Linked DNA regions of Homo sapiens: region 1 is linked to region 2. Evidence: fine-mapped expression QTL. Tissue or cell type: monocytes after LPS. Region 2 holds a variant in brackets; the other region holds the start of a gene. All regions are shown on one strand. Distances are from middle to middle. Region 1 holds the start of KATNIP (katanin interacting protein). Region 2 overlaps KATNIP (katanin interacting protein).

Region 1 (8,321 bases), 230 kb before region 2:
TCCAATGTCTTCACTTGTCTATTAAATGCCTCCCATTCCAAATATGATTACCTCTCCCCAGCTCCAATTAAGTCCCTTCTTTCCCCTCTTACTACCGCTTTCTTCCATGTGCCTCTTACAACACCATGGAGACATTTTTCATTTGTGCTTCTTTCATGCAGTTAGCCAAGCTTGTCAAGTTTTTTTTTTTTTGAAAAAAAAAAAAAATACATACATATATATATATATAATTTTTTTTCCCCTCACTATGTTGCCCAGATTGGTCTTGAACTACCGGGCTCAAGTAATCTGCCCACTTCAGCCTTGCAAAGTGCTAGGATTACAGGTGTGAGCCACCTTGCCTGGCTGCTTGTCGAGTTTTATTTTGAAATCTCACTCATATCCTACACTAGTCTAATTGCGGCTAAATCCTATGTACATGTTTCAGCCCTTTCCTTCCTTGCCCCCTCTGTGTTATCTGCACCATTTAACCCTCCATTCCTTTTTTTTAAGACTTGAGTTTTGATCTTGTCACCCAGGCTGGAGTGCAGTGGCGCAATCTCGGCTCACTGCAACCTCTACCTTCTGGGTTCAAGCGATTCTCCTGCCTCAGCCTCCCTAGTAGCTGGGATCACAGGCACCTGCCACCACACCCAGCTAATTTTTGTATTTTTAGTAGAGAGAGGGTTTCACGATGTTGGCCAAATGATCCACCTGCCTCGGCCTCCCAAAGTGCTGGGATTACAGGCATGATTCACCACACCCAGCCCAACCCTCCGTTCTTAAATGATCCTGTCTCCTCCCAAACTTCCAGAACACCACTCTGACCTGACTGTCCTCTACCTCTCCAGCCACACCGCCTCAGTCTTCTTTTGAAAGTCCCTCACCCTCCATCCAGCCTTGAAATGTAGGTGCACTGCAGAGCTATATCTCAAGACCTCCAACCACACTACACTCTCTCTTAGGGCTGATCTTAGCCAGCTGCTTTAATTACCAGCTGCTAGGAATGACTCACAGATGTCTAGCTCAGTCCCTCCCTCTGGCCTGCTTTCACTCCCACGAAGCCAGATGTTTACTAATTAAGACTCTTCACTTGGACAACTCAAAAGAACCTGAAGCTAAATGTGTCACATGTCTCTTCAGCAAAGTCCCCACCTCCCCCAGACTCAACCCCCACGCTGTTCTTCCGTGTTCCCAGCCTCAGAGATGAGAATCAGGGTTCGCTCAGGTGCCCAAACAGCAGCCTACTATGTCTTGACTGCCTGTGCTCTTCATCCCCACGCCCACCATGGTAAGCCAGACCATGACTAGATTACTAAAAATCTCTCAACTTCACTCTTTGCCCCTAGTCTGACCCTCTCTTCAGTGACTTCTCACTGTCCTTTTGATAAAGGATAAGCTTTTTTTTTGAGATGGATTCTCCCTCTGTCACCCAGGCTGGAGTGCAGTGGCACAATCTCGGCTCACTGCAGCCTCCACCTAGCTGGGATTTCAGGCGTCTACCACCACGCCCAGCTAATTTTTGTATTTTTAGTAGACATGGGGTTTCACCATGTTGGCTGGACTGGTCTTGAACTCCTGACCTCAAGTTATCCGCCCACCTCTGCCTCTCAAAGTGCTGGGATTACAGGCTGATAAACTCTTTAAGTAGGTTAAAAGACTTGATTCCAGTCCAATTTGGCTGGAATCTGAACTCAGACCTTCCTCAAAGTCTGGGTTCTTCCCTTGCTAGTTGACTTTTAGCATGCCACTTGACCCCTCAGGGCCTCGATTTTCTCTTCAGGAAAATGGGGAGAATATTACCCATCTCCTAAGGTTTCTGTAAAAATTAAATAACATGTTGTATTAAGGATCTTAGCACAGTCCTAGCTATTCCTCATTCCCTACCTCCAATTCCACACTTCAGCCACTTACTTCACATTTGCTGTTCTCTGTCCAACAGTCCTCTTTGCCAACTGGCTGCCTAAATCCAACCTTTAAGTTTTGTCTCGAACATTATTTTATTTTATTTTTGAGACAGAGTCTCACTCTGTCACCCAGGCTGGAGTGCAATGGCTGAATCTCAGCTCACTGAAACCTCTGTCTCCCAGGTTCAAGTGATTCTCCTGCCTCAGCCTCCTGAGTAGCTGGGATACAGGCATGCGCCACCACGCCAGGCTAATTTTTGTATTTTTAGTAGAGATAGGGTTTCACCACGTTGGTCAGGCGGGTCTTGAACTGCCGACCTTGTGACCCATCCACCTCAGCCTCCCAAAGTACTGGGATTGCAGGCATGAGCTGCTGCACCCGGCCTGTCTTGGACATTATTACCTCTTGGAACCTCCCCTGACCCTCACAATATGGCTTAAGAGCACAGACGCTGAAAATAGCCTGGGTTCAAATCAATTCTTAGTCACTTATTGCCCCCAGAACCTTAGGTTACATAATCCCTCTCTGTGACTCAGTGTCTTCCTCTGTAAAATGAGGACGATAACAGCACCTACCTCATAGGTGAGGATCAAGTGAATTTAATCTCCTGTTTAACGGAGTTTAATCAAGTGAGGATCAAGTGAGTTTAAGCTCCTAAAGCTTCTAGAATAGATTCTTAGAACAGCAATGTGGCCGGGCGCCGTGGCTCACGCCTGTAATCACAGCACTTTGGGAGGCCGAGAGGTGCGGATTGTCTGAGGTCAGGAGTTCGCGACCAGCCTGGCCAACATGATGACACCCCATACCTACTAAAAATGCAAAAATTAGCCGGGCGTGGTGGAACATGCCTGTAATCCCAGTTACTCAGGAGGCTGAGGCACGAGAATCGCTTGAACCTGGGAGGCGGACGGAGGTTGCAGTGAGCCAAGATCGCGCCACTGCACTCCAGCCTGGGCCACAGAGAGAGACTCTATCTCAAAAAAGAAAAAAAAGAACAGCACCTCACCCATGAAGTCCCTGATAAATGTCAGCTTTTAGCATTATCGCTAATTGTCCTGATACGCAGATCTCGAGTTGCCCTAGGCTATCTGCACCGAATGAATATACCATGAGGGTCTGTTGATCTCAGGAGTCTCCAGTCTGGCTCTAAAGTGTCTTTCCTGCTCTAATCCTATCCTCCAATGTAAAGGAAACATTCTTTTAAGCCTGAAGAATATCCCCAATCCTGTTCGCCATTACCCCAAAACACACACAGGGACAAAACGGGACATCACTAGATTCTCCCCCTCCCCCCGCCAACTCCATCGGACTCCAGGGCCCTGCCAGGCCTGAGGGACCCCAGATTAGCCTTACCGCCGTGCCCCAACTCAATCAACAGGCCTCCGGTACTTGCACAGCCCCACTCCATTCCCCCGCCCTGCCCCCAGCTCCATCAGCCCCCGGGCCCTGCGCCCGCCCGCCCGCCCGCCAGGCCAGGCCGCCCGCTGACCGGTCCTGGAGCTGTAGGTCGGGTCGCTCCCGAGGCTCCTCATAGAAGCTGATGCCCGGGTGCGTGGCGAGGGCCCGCCAGAGAAACTCCTGCGTGCAGGGTTCCAAAGGCAGCGGGAAGGGCGGCACTCGCGTCTCCAGCCGGCTCCACAGCGCTGGCAGACACAGGCCATCGAGCCCCTCCAGAGCGACTTCGTCCAACAACGACTCCAGCGCGTCCATTGCTACTTCAGTCGGCGGCGCCCGGGGCGCATGCGCAACGCACCGCCAAGGGCCTTGGTCCATCGCGCCTGCGCACAACGATCCGGGGCCCGGGGAGGTGGGTCAGACCCAGGGTTCGGAGGAGGAGTTCCAGCGCGCCGGCATGACGTCACTCCCCGGGGGCGGGCTCAGTAAGTGGAGCTCCACCGTCATTGGTCCGGGGCCCCGCAGTAACCAGGGGAACTGCAAACAGTGTAGAGGCCGCTTCCGGTTCGAGCTCCCGGAACCGCCGCCTCTAGGGATGGACGGTGAGTGTCTGTGGGCCCCTCCGGGAGGTCGGGCTGTTATTCTCCCATCCCTCCCGACCGCGCTTTGGGCAGAATCCTAGGCCATGAACCCCTGGACCACCACTTCCTGACCCAAGGGGGTCTCCGAAATGAGGGATAGGGAGGCTTAGTGGTCTGGAACGCGGAGGAGAGCCTGGGGGAGTGGTCAGTGCTGTGACCATTCTGCTCGGCTGTGGTCGTGAAGGAAACCGGTACTGGCCGGGAGCTCAGTGAAGGGATGTAGGGTGGGGAAGGAGAAGTAGAGGTCTGAGGAGGGTCTTGTGAATGTTGGGATGTGGAACTGTCGGATTTGGGAGTTGATATGAAAACAAGCTTGATCGTGGGAGTGCAATCGTCAGGTGCTGGGAAAGGGAATTGGTGTGGGGGGTGAAGGGAGTTTAGGAAATACTCCCTTTCTGTGCCTTGGCGTTAATAATAATAGCTCCCTTTAACAAAGTGCTTTCCAGTACCAAGAACTCTGTAAGTACTCTTGGGCAACACCTCGCTAAGCTTCATACCAGCCTTTTGAGTTCAGCGTTGTTCCATTTTACAGATGATGAAACTGAGGCTCAGAGGTGTTAAGGAACTTGCCCAAAGTCAAACAACCAGCATGTAGCAGAGTGAGTGAGAAACCCAGACACCCTGTCTCTGGAGCTGAATTATGGAGCTTGAGATTTGGACCGGTTTTGAGGGTCCCTTTATTCCAGAGGTTGTAAATGCAGATGTCTGCAGAGGAGAGTCTAGTGAGCCGGATTGAGGCTGTAACTGAAAATCAATTCCTCACCTGAAAGGAAAGCTGCTCACCAAGCACCAGCTGATTGTCCTCTTGGGGTACTTCTCAAAAACAGGGTTGGCCAGTCACTCTGAAGGCCAGAGACAGCTTGTGGGCCCCCATTTAGGGATCCCTGATTAGAGTCATGGTATTGACAATTGGAAGCAAATGGAAAATAGGCTATTCTGATATCTCACTTTGCAGATGGGAAGACTAAAGTCTAGAGAGACTGGTAGGGTCTGGGCTAGAGTCCAGATCATTTTTCTAATTACAGCACTGTCCCTCACTTCTCGGGAATTTGTTCCTGGGGAATCCACATTCTTTTTATATTCACTGAATGTAGTGTGGAGAAAATGTTTTTAATTGAACATTCTGTCATATGCTTAAAATATATCTTTTCCCTTTGTACTTTAGAGGTACTATAAAATGTGCTTTACCATTTTGCCTTCTGGAAAGGTCAATGTAATGTTGCTATAGAACATCAGTCCTCAAACCTTTTAAGCCTTGGGACCCCTGTATGCTCTTACCTCAAAGAGCTTTGTTTATTTATATTTATGATATTTACCATATCGAAGATTTAAACTGGGAAAATCTTAAGATGTCCATTAATTAGTTCCTTTAAAAATAATAAAAATTGGGCCGGGCATGGACTCGTGCCTGTAATCCTAGCACTCTGGAAGGCCAAGGCAGGTGGATCACTTGAGGTCAGGAGTTCGAGACCAGCCTGGCCAACATGGTGAAACCTTGTCTCTACTAAAACTTAGCCGGACGTGGTGACACATGTCTGTAATCCCAGCTACTTGGAAGGCTGAGGCAGGAGAATCATTTGAAGCCGAGATCTTGCCACTGCACTCCAGCCTGGGCAACAGGGCGAGACTCTGTCTCAAAAAAACCCAATAATAATAATAATAATTGGCCAGGTGCAGTGGCTCATAATAATCATAATAATAATTGGCCATGTGCAGTGCCTCACACCTGTGATCCCAGCAGTTTGGGAGGCTGAAGTGGGTGGATTGCTTGAGCTCAGGAGTTCAAGACCAGCCTGGGCAACATAGCTAGACCCTGTCTCAAAAAAACTCCAACAACAATAAACCCATTACTTCTGAACATAAATAATATTTTTAATGGAAAACAATTACATTTGCCTCCAAAAAATTAATAGGAAGAGTAGCATTATTTTATGTTTTTTCAAGTTTATTCAATAGAAATAGAAAAAACTACTCTCATTTCTGCTTCAGGATTCAAACTGTTTTTTGTTATGCTGTTTTGGCTGGTGTGTATGAAGAAAATTTGGCCTCATACAAATATATAATTGGAGCAGAGAGAAACATTTTAATTGCCTTTTCAGATAACTGTAGACACTCTCCTTTCATACTATACAAAATTTAGCAAATGCCAGTTTCTTTTTTCTTTTTTTTTTTTTTTTTGAGAAAAAGTCTCACTGTCGCCCAGGCTGGAGTGCAGTGGCACGATCTCAGCTCACTGCAACCTCTGCCTGCTGGGTTCAAGCGATTCTCCTGCCTCAACCTCCCGAGTAGCTGGGATCACAGGTGTGAACCACCATGCCCAGCTAATTTTTTTTATTTTTAGTAGACATGGGGTTTCCCCATGTTGGCCAGCTGGTCGCAAACTCCTGACCTCAGGTGATCAGCCTGCCTCCATTTCCCAAAGTGCTGGGATTACAGACGTGAGCCACCATGCCTGGCCTGCAAGTGGCAGTTTTTTTTTTTTTTTTTTTTTTTTGAGACGGGAGTTTTGCCGTCGTTGCCCAGGCTGGAGTGCAATGGCCTGATCTCGGCTCACCGCAACCTCCGCCTCCCGGGTTCAAGCGATTCTCCTGCCTCAGCCTCCCAAGTAGCTGGGATTACAGGCATGTGCCACCACGCTCAGCTAATTTTGTACTTTTAGTAGAGATGGGGTTTCTCTATGTTGGTCAGGCTGGTCTCAAACTGCCAACCTCAGGTGATCCGCCCGCCTTGGCCTCCCAAAGTGCTGGGATTACAGGCATGAAGAACCATGCCAGGCCACAAGTGGCAGTTTCTTAAATGTTAGTCACAGTGTGTCATCTGAAGCCTTATAGGTGAACTTTTATACTGTGTTACATTAAAATCCATTGGTCTATCTTGCCCTTTCATTGGCTGCTTTACCCATATATGGTTTTATAACATCAGCCATTGGTCGTTTAGAAAATGTTGGTTCAGTGAGTTATGCAAATCTAAACGTTGACCTTTCAGATGCCATTATACGGTATTTAAAAAATCACATTTGTTAATATCACCACCTATTTCATTTTAAAAAGGAGTTTAAGTATTAGGAAACTATCAAACTCAAGGTAATGGAAACAAGTTTTCAACTTGTTTTCACTTGACAGCTTGAATTTTAACATTGGCAGCAAATATTGTCAGCTGTTTCCTTGAAGTGACAGACTCACTTATTTCATATTTGAGAAAATTTCTGCCAAATTCCCAAGACTGAATAACCAAAATTTGTCTATTATTTTATTTACTGCCATGTACTCACATTTAAAACAAACAAACAATTATTTTTATTTAAGAATGTCCTGATGGTTGGGTTCAGTGGCTCACGCCTATAGTCCCACCGCTTTGGGAGGCCAAGACAAGAGGATCTCTTCAGCCCAGAAATTCAAGACCAGCTTCGTCAACATAGTGAGACTCCATCTCTACTAAATAAATAAATAAAATAAATAAATAAATAAATAATAGTCAGGCATGGTAGCATGCACCTGTGGTTCTAGCTGCTAAGGAGACTGAGGTGTGGGGATCACTTGAGCCCAGGAGGTCAAGACCAGCCTGGGCAACTTAGTGAGACCCCATCTCTGTAAAAAGTAAAAAATTAGACAGGTATAGTGGCTCGTGCCTGTAGTCCCAGCCACTCAGGATCAGTTGAGCTTAGGAGGTTGAGGCTACAGTGAGCCATGACTGTGCCACTGCACTCCAGCCTGGGCAAAAAGACCTTGTCTAGAGAGAGAGAGAGCAGGGGGTGGGGTGGGGGGAGAGAGGAGAGAGAAAGGAAGGAAGGAAAGAAGGGAGGGAGAGGAGAGAGAAAGGAAGGAGGAAAGAAGGGAGGGATGGAAGAAGGGAGGGAGGAAGGAAGGAGGGAAGGTTTCTAGTACATTGTGGTAACATTGCCTTGATTCAGACTGCAAGCAGTTTTACCCACCATTGCTTTGTGTCATAAGTACAAATGTCAACACAGCCAGATGGGGTGGCTCACGCCTGTAATCCCAGCACTTTGAGAGGCCAAGGTGGGCGATCACCTGAGGTCGGGAGTTTGAGACTAGCCTGGCCAACATGGTGAAACCCTGTCTCTACTAAAAATACAAAAATTAGCTGGGCATGGTGGCACATAACTGTGGTCCCAGCTACTTGGGGGAGGCTGAGGCAAGAGAATCGCTTGAACCCAGGAGGCAGAGGTTGCAGTGAGCCAAGATCATGCCACTGTATTGCAGCCTGGGCAACAGAGTGAGACTGTCTCAAAAGAAAAAAAATTCAACACAGTGAAATACTCTTCAAATTATGATTAAAATACTTTTGTCTTTGTGGACCCCTCCTTCTCCCAGGATCTGCACCTTTGAGAAACATTGCTACAGTCCATTTTCAGGAAGGCTGCTTTGTGCCTTCTAATGA
Region 2 (8,325 bases):
AAAGGCTTGATGCCCAGCTCTGCACGTGGGACTTCAGCAGCAATGGTGGTCTCCTTGCCCCGGCCCATGGCCCCTGGCGCTGTGAGGTTTATGTGTCCCCTTCTTAGCCTCCTGTTTACTTGAAAGGGATGGAGGAGGTTGCAGGTACTCTGTTCTTGTCATTTCACAACCAGGGAAACTGGAGCATTTTGTTCAATACCATACAATCAGTTTGTGACACAGATGTTTCCCCATCCTGCCTGCTCCCTGGAGAGCACCCTCTCCTCCCGTCCTGTCTCCTGGGGCCTAGAGGAAGGCTTTGAATTCCTAATACACACACACACGGGCACACGCACACGTGCACACATGCATGCATACACACACATGAACACTCACATGCACACACACACACACATGCACACACATGCAATTTAAGAAAATGTGATGCTACCTATATTTTGATAGGCTCTAGTTGCAATAAGAGAAAAATGTTTTTCTCTCATTCATCAACATAAACCCAAAACAATTCCTCTTATCTTTGCCATTGTTTTACTATATTCTGAAAAAAAAAAATTAAGCCTTCTTTTCCTTAATAAAGTGTCCCAGTCATTTTCCAGTTTCAGCTTCTCACCAGCTGGGGCGACCCCTACTACATCGGCCTCACCGGCCTGGAGCTGTATGACGAGCGAGGAGAAAAAATCCCCTTGTCGGAAAACAGTATCCTTTGTAGGACAGGAGTGGGCTCCACCCAGACTGAAGGGAGCATGGGAGGGTCGGGAACGGGGCAGAAGCCTTGTGTGCAGAGGGAAATGGCCCTCTAGGAACCAGAGCCCAGGGGGCTTTGCTTATAGTCAGATGCTGACCCTTGGGGACGGGCAGCAGAGAGCAGCTCCCAGCCCTGCCTGCTAAGACATCAGGAGCAGGAATTCCACAAACCAGAGTCCTGTGGTCCAGTGAATTGAGAGAGGCTGCCAACTATAGCGCCCCCTTCTCGGAGAACCACAGATACTTTGGAGTTCCAAAGGCTCTGACAAGGTCTGCAGGGAGAAGCCTGTTGCACTGTGTTCAACTCAGTGTGTCCTGAATTTCTTAAGTATGGAACCCTTTGTGCATAGTATGCCCACACCAGAATTTGCAGACTGTTAGCCCAGTGCATTTTAAAATGAGTTGCTAATATTTTTAGAAATCACGAGGTTTCACATGAAAACCCTGATCTCTGGTTTCCCCTGAGAAATTGGCAACACAGGCCCTTGATTATGCATAGTGACAATGGCTGGACCTGGTTATCTGTTGCCATTTCTCCCCAAGCATATCCTTCTGGTCTACCTTAGCCCCCCACTCCTCCCATTGTTATCTACCAGGCCCCGAAACTCACTGCTAATATTTTCTCAGGGCTCACTCTGTGCTACCTCATCTGCCCTCACAACAATCTTGTGAGGTGATTGCTGCTGTTATCCCCATTTTACAGATGAGGAGCCTGAGACACAGAGAGATTGAGTAACTTGCCTAATGTCACACAGCCAGTGAGTGTCCAGACACCAGCTCTTGACCAAGCAGTAGGCTATCCTGCCTCTTTCATGTAACCTGCCTGGCCCCCTCGGATCTTGAATCTGTGATCCCTGGCCCACCACAGTTAGGGAAATACCAGGGCAAGTCGAACCCCAAAGCCTGCCTTGCATCTGTTTGGGGTCCCTGGCTTCCAGTTGGATCCTTTTCTGCCTTCCCCTGGTGCCACCACCCTCCTCAGCTGGGATGAATGATTCTTGATGTTTTAGATCATTATTAGCGACTCCTCGAAGCTATAAAGTTTCATTGATTTTACCAAAGTGCTCACATCTGGTGCACTCTGAGATCCTCACATCCATCCTGGGAGCTGGAGGTTTTTATACCCATTTTACAGATGGGAAAACAGGCCCAGGGTTGACCTGTGACTTGCCCACGCCCTCACAGGTCATAATGGCAGAGGCAGAGCTAGAAGCTGGGTTCTGCAGATCACATTAGCTGGGTCCAGCTGCTCCGAGGTCCTTCCACACTGACCAGGAAGAGAGGCTCGGCATGATACTCACATGCCAGGGTAGAATCCAGCCACCGCCCCATTCCCTTCCAAAAGAAAACCTCCGCAGAGCTTGCCCTCCACCCTCTCAAGCAGCAGCAACATTTTACGTCCCCAGCTCTGGCAGTTCCCTGCAACGTCTCTTTTTCAGCTGGCCTTCTGTGTGGTTTCCTTCTCTCTCTACTTGAAACTGACCACCTCTCCAGACACACCTGCTCCCCTTGGGCCCGGCACTCCCCGTTTCCCCAGGACACGTCCAATTCAGCTGTCACTGCTGCGGCTGCCCAAAGCATCAGCCCTGCCAGCCCCAGAGTCCCCCGAGCCACGCCATCAGCCTGAGGGTGGCTGGCAGCCCCGAGCACACAGATTTGGGTTATGGCAACTTAGACGTCTCCTCAGATATTGCGGCCTTCCCCGACAGCGTGAACTCCCTGGAGGGTGTGGGCGGGGACGTCCGCACCCCAGACAAGCTCATCGACCAAGTGAACGACACCAGTGATGGCCGGCACATGTGGCTGGCTCCCATCCTGCCGGGCCTGGTGGGTTCCCGGCAGCGGCCACCGCAGCTCCTGGCCCTCAGGCGGGCAGGGGGACTTTCTTTCCCTGGTCTCAGTGACACGTCTTTCTTCCAGGTCAAGTTAATCTCAAGCCAAGATGCTTGGGAGCTGTCAGAAAGGTTTAGGTCTTTGCTAACTTGCCTGATGGGGTCAGCTCTTCCAGGCCAGCAGTTCTTTCTCTTTTATAAGTGGACACCTGGGGCGAAAGGGGTCCCATGGGAATCTGAAGCCAGGAACCCCAGCACAACTGCCTGAGGGCTTGGGCGTCCTGGGTCCCTGCAGGCAGCCCTCTCTGGTTCTCTGCTCTGCCTGGCTTTGCAGCCACTGTGCCCTCTTCCTCCCCACCCAGCTCTCCGCACACTCACGGTTTCTGCCCCTTCCTACATCACCAGGTAGATGACCCCAGTACGGCCGCCCTGCCCTCCTTCTGGCCCTAAATTGGCCTGGTCAGCTCTTCCGACCAACTGACTCAGTTTCCCAGATCTCAAATCTTGCACTGGGTCCTGCTTAGCTTTTAGCTCTGAGGCCTCATGGTGAGAAGACGTGGTTGGTTGTGGTGGAGAGGAAGGGGAGAGGGCATGGACGGGGTGGTCAGCCCCCCTGCAGCCTCTCAGCCCAGGGCCAGGTGCCTGGTAGAGATGCACAGCGGGTTCTTGGCAGCCATATGACTAGGGATGTGTCCCTTGTCCATGCCATGGGACTGAGTGGGGGATCGGGGGCACCTTTTTCTCTGAAAACACAGGAAGGTACAGCATCAGCAATTCTATGACGGAAGTTTTCCAAAGGCCACCCTAAAATTAGACCCCCCCTATTGAGCGTCCTCAGCTTCCCCTGCCCCATTGCAGAGGGGGCAACAGAGCTCTGTCCTCCCTGAGACTCAGGCCACCCACTGACGGCCAGCGGGTATTTTCCATTGTCTAGCACTGGAAGGCCTTTTGGGGTGCGGCGACTTCAGCTGTTGCTCTCGCGGCTGGACTCCAACATCTGTATCTGCTTGAGCCTCACAGGCAACTGAGTTTGGAGACCCTCACCCTGACCTTTATTGTTTCCATGGTCCAGCCAGGAGGCTGGCCCTACCCGAGCAGCCGCACTCCCTCTTGGCATATTCTGAGGATGGTCACAGGCTGGGGACCAGGGCCTGGGGCAGGACTGAGCCTGCAGTCTGTGGCCAGTGTGGAATGCTTATTTCTTGATTCTGTCTTGCAAGGGAGGGCCTCCCCTAATATCTGAGAGCTTTGGTTGGGGGTGGGGAGAGGGAGGGCTGTTTGAGGCTGCTCCGTCCCACTTTTCCCACTGGATTCTGCCCCGATCTAGACAGCCCCCTTTTTACTCCCCCAGCGGAGGTTCACAGACACGCCCTGGACATTGTCCAGCAGCACCTTGGCGTTGCTTCTCAGTGATGGTTTGGGGAAAGGACAGACAGGGTCAGATGCTGATCACCATGGCTGGTGCTCAACCCGAGTTGGGGACTGTCCCTTTAGCTCATGGGGCTCTAGACTATTTCTGGGCCTGACCTGAGGGGACGTGGGGGAGGGCCGAGGATGTTCCCAATCCTCCACTGGCATTTAAATGAGGGCTCCGACAGGCCCAAGAACACAGGCCCTCCAAAAGCCAGCTCAGCGGTTTGTTGCAAATGCAGCCACACGTGACCTGACTCAAGATGGGCTTCGAGGAGATGAAAGGGGGCGGAACTCCAGGCTGGCCCACGTGGCAGGCGCTGCCTTGGGCACCACCGCTCACCCCAGCCCACGCCTGGCACCCCCAGCCCAGCCAAGCGCCTCTGTTTCCAAACATGCCTGTTTTAATTAGTGCCGCTCTCTGACAGGTGAACCGGGTTTATGTGATTTTCGATCTGCCTACCACCGTGTCAATGATCAAACTGTGGAATTATGCGAAAACACCCCATCGAGGGGTGAAGGAGTTTGGCGTAAGTACTTATTAGCTGAGTTTTTTGAGATAATTATGCTCGTTGGTAATTAGGCCGCCGGCAATTATCATTTGTCGCAGTTTGATTTACTTCTCTCTGTTGCAACCCTCAACACAAATGCCTGGTCGTCAGATGCAGGCGAATTTCCCACCCAACCATGAATTCAGAACCTGCTGGCAGTGATTTCAGTGTCACCCTGAGCAAATAGAAAGTGGGTTTTCTTTCGTCTTTTCCTCTAGAATCCCACTGGTTTGGGGCGGTGACCCTGGGATGGGGAAAACAGGGACCCTGGATACCAGAGACCCAAGTTTGCCTCCAGCTCTGCCACTTGTGCTAATGGTATTAAAGCCCCTCGGGCCTCAATTTCCTCATCTGCAATGCATGCTGATAGCTCCTGCCTTTCCCAATGGTTGTGAAGATCTGAAATCACAAGGCAGACACAGCACACAGTAGGCGCTTGTTCCTGACAGCCCCGTCTTCCCGAGGAGAAAGCCTTGGCTCAGAGCAGTAACGCGTTCTGCCCAAGGTCAACGTGGGAGGGACGAGGGGGACCC[A/G]TGAGTCCTGCCCCGTGTCCCTGCAGCTCCTGGTGGACGACCTGCTTGTGTACAATGGGATCCTGGCCATGGTGAGCCACCTGGTGGGGGGCATCCTGCCCACATGTGAGCCCACCGTGCCCTACCACACCATCCTCTTCACCGAGGACAGGGACATCCGCCACCAGGAGAAACACACCACCATCAGGTAGGGCCCCAGCCGGCCCCATGGCCTCCCCACCAGCCCTAAGGAGGATGGATGGCTGGGACACACGGCCAGGAGCCTGATCGAATCTTGTGTTTCCTTCCTACCCTCAGTAATCAGGCCGAGGATCAAGATGTCCAGATGATGAATGAAAACCAAATCATTACCAACGCGAAACGGAAGCAGAGCGTTGTTGACCCAGGTCAGTGGCGTTTCTCTGCCCAGAGCATTGTGCCTTGGGAGCTCGGTCTGAATATAGAAGGAGCTGGTGGCCTTGCACCCCCACCCTCACCCCTGCCTGCCCCTAGACCGCTCTCCTCTGCCCAGGAGCCTGCCCAAAGGCCTAGGGAGGGACTGAAGAGGATGGAACCAGGGGAGCAACATGCTTCCATCTTCTTGCAGGCACCTGTAACACAGTGGAGCTTCCTGAATCTAAGTGTCGTGGGCACAGAGTGGGGAAGCAGTCAGGGACAGAGCACCATGTTAAAGGGGTTTGCCCCGGGCCGTGGGAAACCAATAGAGGATGCCCAAGGTGAGGGCTTCCCGGAGGAGGTGATGTTTGAGCTGGATCCTAAAGGATGTGAGGAGTGTGCCAGGCAGCCTGGGCAAAGGCTGAGAGGGGTGTTGTGGCAGAGCCTGCTCCAGGCGGAGGGAAGGGGCCAGCGTGCCAGGCGCCCCGAGAGCAGGGACTTTTCCAAGGGCCTTGAATGGCAACCCAGGCTGCTGGATTTCACTGGGGAGTGTGGGGCACCCCTCCAGGGTTTGAGACTTAGTAACTCTGGTCCCTCTGTTCCCTGTCATGACAGCCTTACGTCCCAAAACCTGCATCAGCGAGAAGGAGACGAGACGACGGCGCTGCTGACTGGTGAAGGAGGGAGAGCTGGTCCTCCCACTATGGTGGGCTCCGTCAGCAGCCCCACTCAGTGCCTGCGTCCCTCACCCTCAGTCCCAGGAGCTGGAAGCGAACCACAGTGTTGAGGGGAGCCCGCTGGGAAGAGGGGACTCGGGAGGACAGCCCTGGATACTACCAGAGTGACAGATGGCTGTGGCTGCAGGGCAAAGAGATCCCCTGCAGTTCTGGGTTGGCCACAGGGAGCCCAGGACACCCGCCTTCATGCCTCTGCTGTGAGACCCAGCAAAGCAGGGCCCATGACCACTAGGGCCTGGGCTGACCCTGACTCAGAACAGGACAATGACGGGGTGGGGAGGCATCCCATCCAGCCTCAGAGGGCCCAGAGAATGGCTGAGCAGGACAGTGGGAGACCAGACCCTACCCCGCAACTCCAGTAAGCAGGGCACTGCCCAGGGAGACTGCCTTCAGAAACCTGAGCTTCAGCGGCCAACACCCCCCATCCCCTGCGCATCCTTGTCTCATTTGGGGACTGGTGGAGCTGGCTGAGAGGTTGGGGTAGTTTCCTGGTTACAGGGGTCCACAAGACCCTCTCTCATCCCGGTATAGGGGCCTCTCTCCTCTCATCGGGCCTGATAAGGGATTGGCCAAGGCTGTGTGCATCCTGCAGAGGGAAGGAAGTCAGCTGGGCCACCCGCCATCCACCTTGGCAAGAGCTGGGCCCACTCTGGCAGGCCAGGGTATCATCTGCGTGCTGCTGCCGGGCCAGGAAGGGTGGGTGGGTGGCCAGCAGGCTGGCAGCTCCAGACCCCAGAGGGCCAGAAGAACTCACCCCAGTGCCCTCTGGATGCAGGTGTTGGGGAACACTGAGGACAATCCCCCATCTCCCCTCACCCTTGAGCAGGCCCTCCCTGCACTCTCTGCCACATGTCCCTCCTGGTCTGATCACGGCTGTGCTCACTGATGTGGCTGCTTTCTGTCTCTGCCCCTGTGCCCTTGGAGGCAGGCAGTGAGGTGCTCCTTTCCCAGGCCCCCACCCCTTCTCCCCCTTCAGCCACTTCCCAGCGAGTTGGAAATGTGCCTTGCACCCCCAGCCGAGTGAAGCCCAGAACGCATCTATATGCATCGATGTAACAAGCTCGGATCAGGGACCTAATTGGTTTCCCAGTAGTGGGTAATTTCTCGTTGCAAATATTAATCCGTTGTTTTTCTGGCGCCCAGCCCGGCCCGCCGCAGTACTGTACTCGAGGTACGTTCCTATGCAACCGAGAGCCCCGGCAAATACTTCATGAGCTTAGCAGCCTGGGCTCGAGCAGCTATGCAAACGCGCTTTTCATTTGGAGCACGGGGCTGATGTGAAGATAAGAATTGTTTCTCCTGGAGAAAGATCCATCATTTCTCCAGCTTCCAAGCCCCCGGCACCTCTGCTCAGCTCCCAGATGTGACGAGCACCTCCCGCCAGGGGGAGTCAGGGGTTGATCAAACCAGCTCTTGTGACCCAAACCAGTGCCGCTGCATTAAAGGGAGGCCCAGCTACTCCTTCCCAGCTGAGATGTGGGTACAGGTCAGATTTGTCAGGGAGATGGCACTAACACGACACAAGCTCACTCCCAGAACCGCAGCTGATGTTTATAATAATCGTATGTACTGTGCAATTTAGGAGGGGAAAAAAAGGCTGTACAAGCTTTAACTCTAAAATAAATTTCTATTTTTTTCCTCTTGCAAAATTAATAAAAGATGTTATTAAGAATATAGTCCGAGTCACCGGATTTGGGGTCAGATGGGGAGTCCATGCTGCCTCCAGGAGCTGAGTGACACAGAGAAGCCCTCACTGAGCTGCAGATGGGGTCATGATCTCGCCCTGACTACTCAATGAGATTGTCCTGCCGTATGAGCAGACAACAGTAGCTCATCCATAGAGAGTGGTGATTACATGCCTGGCTCTAACTTGTTTAATCCACGTAACACAACCCTTTGGGGTGGGCACTATTATTATCCTCACTTTACAGATAAGGGAGCTGAGACACAGAGAGGTTGTGCAGCTTTCCTGGGACACACAGCTTTGGAAGCTATTAGCCAATGCACAAATCCTGAGAGGGCCCCTGGAGAGTTGAGGTGGGGGTGACAACACTTGGGTCTTTGGCCCTGGGGTTTCCCTTCACCATGTGTGGATCCTGGAATGGTGGCCCCCAGACCCCCAGTTCCTGGACCTCCTCCCTGC

Evidence for each region. PIP is the estimated chance that this variant, and not a neighbour inherited with it, causes the effect.
Region 1: it holds the start of KATNIP, and the variant in region 2 is fine-mapped to the expression of KATNIP in monocytes after LPS (Fairfax 2014, PIP 0.95).

What each region holds. Positions count from the first base shown.
Region 1 is chr16:27,546,294-27,554,614 of GRCh38, forward strand. KATNIP (katanin interacting protein) reads left to right here and starts at 3,851. Exons shown (of 28, transcript NM_015202.5): 1 at 3,851-3,884. The coding sequence starts at 3,878. GTF3C1 (general transcription factor IIIC subunit 1) reads right to left here and starts at 3,620. Exons shown (of 37, transcript NM_001520.4): 1 at 3,377-3,620. The coding sequence starts at 3,597. RefSeq lists enhancers at 3,517-3,596, 3,607-3,716.
Region 2 is chr16:27,772,514-27,780,838 of GRCh38, forward strand. It overlaps KATNIP (katanin interacting protein), which reads left to right. Exons shown (of 28, transcript NM_015202.5): 23 at 586-696; 24 at 2,432-2,571; 25 at 4,415-4,516; 26 at 5,097-5,257; 27 at 5,368-5,456; 28 at 6,061-7,831. The coding sequence ends at 6,116. Among named protein-coding and RNA genes, the nearest start is that of KATNIP, 230 kb to the left of the region's middle. RefSeq lists an enhancer at 1,962-2,462. The variant A/G (reference allele first, on the strand shown) is at 5,071.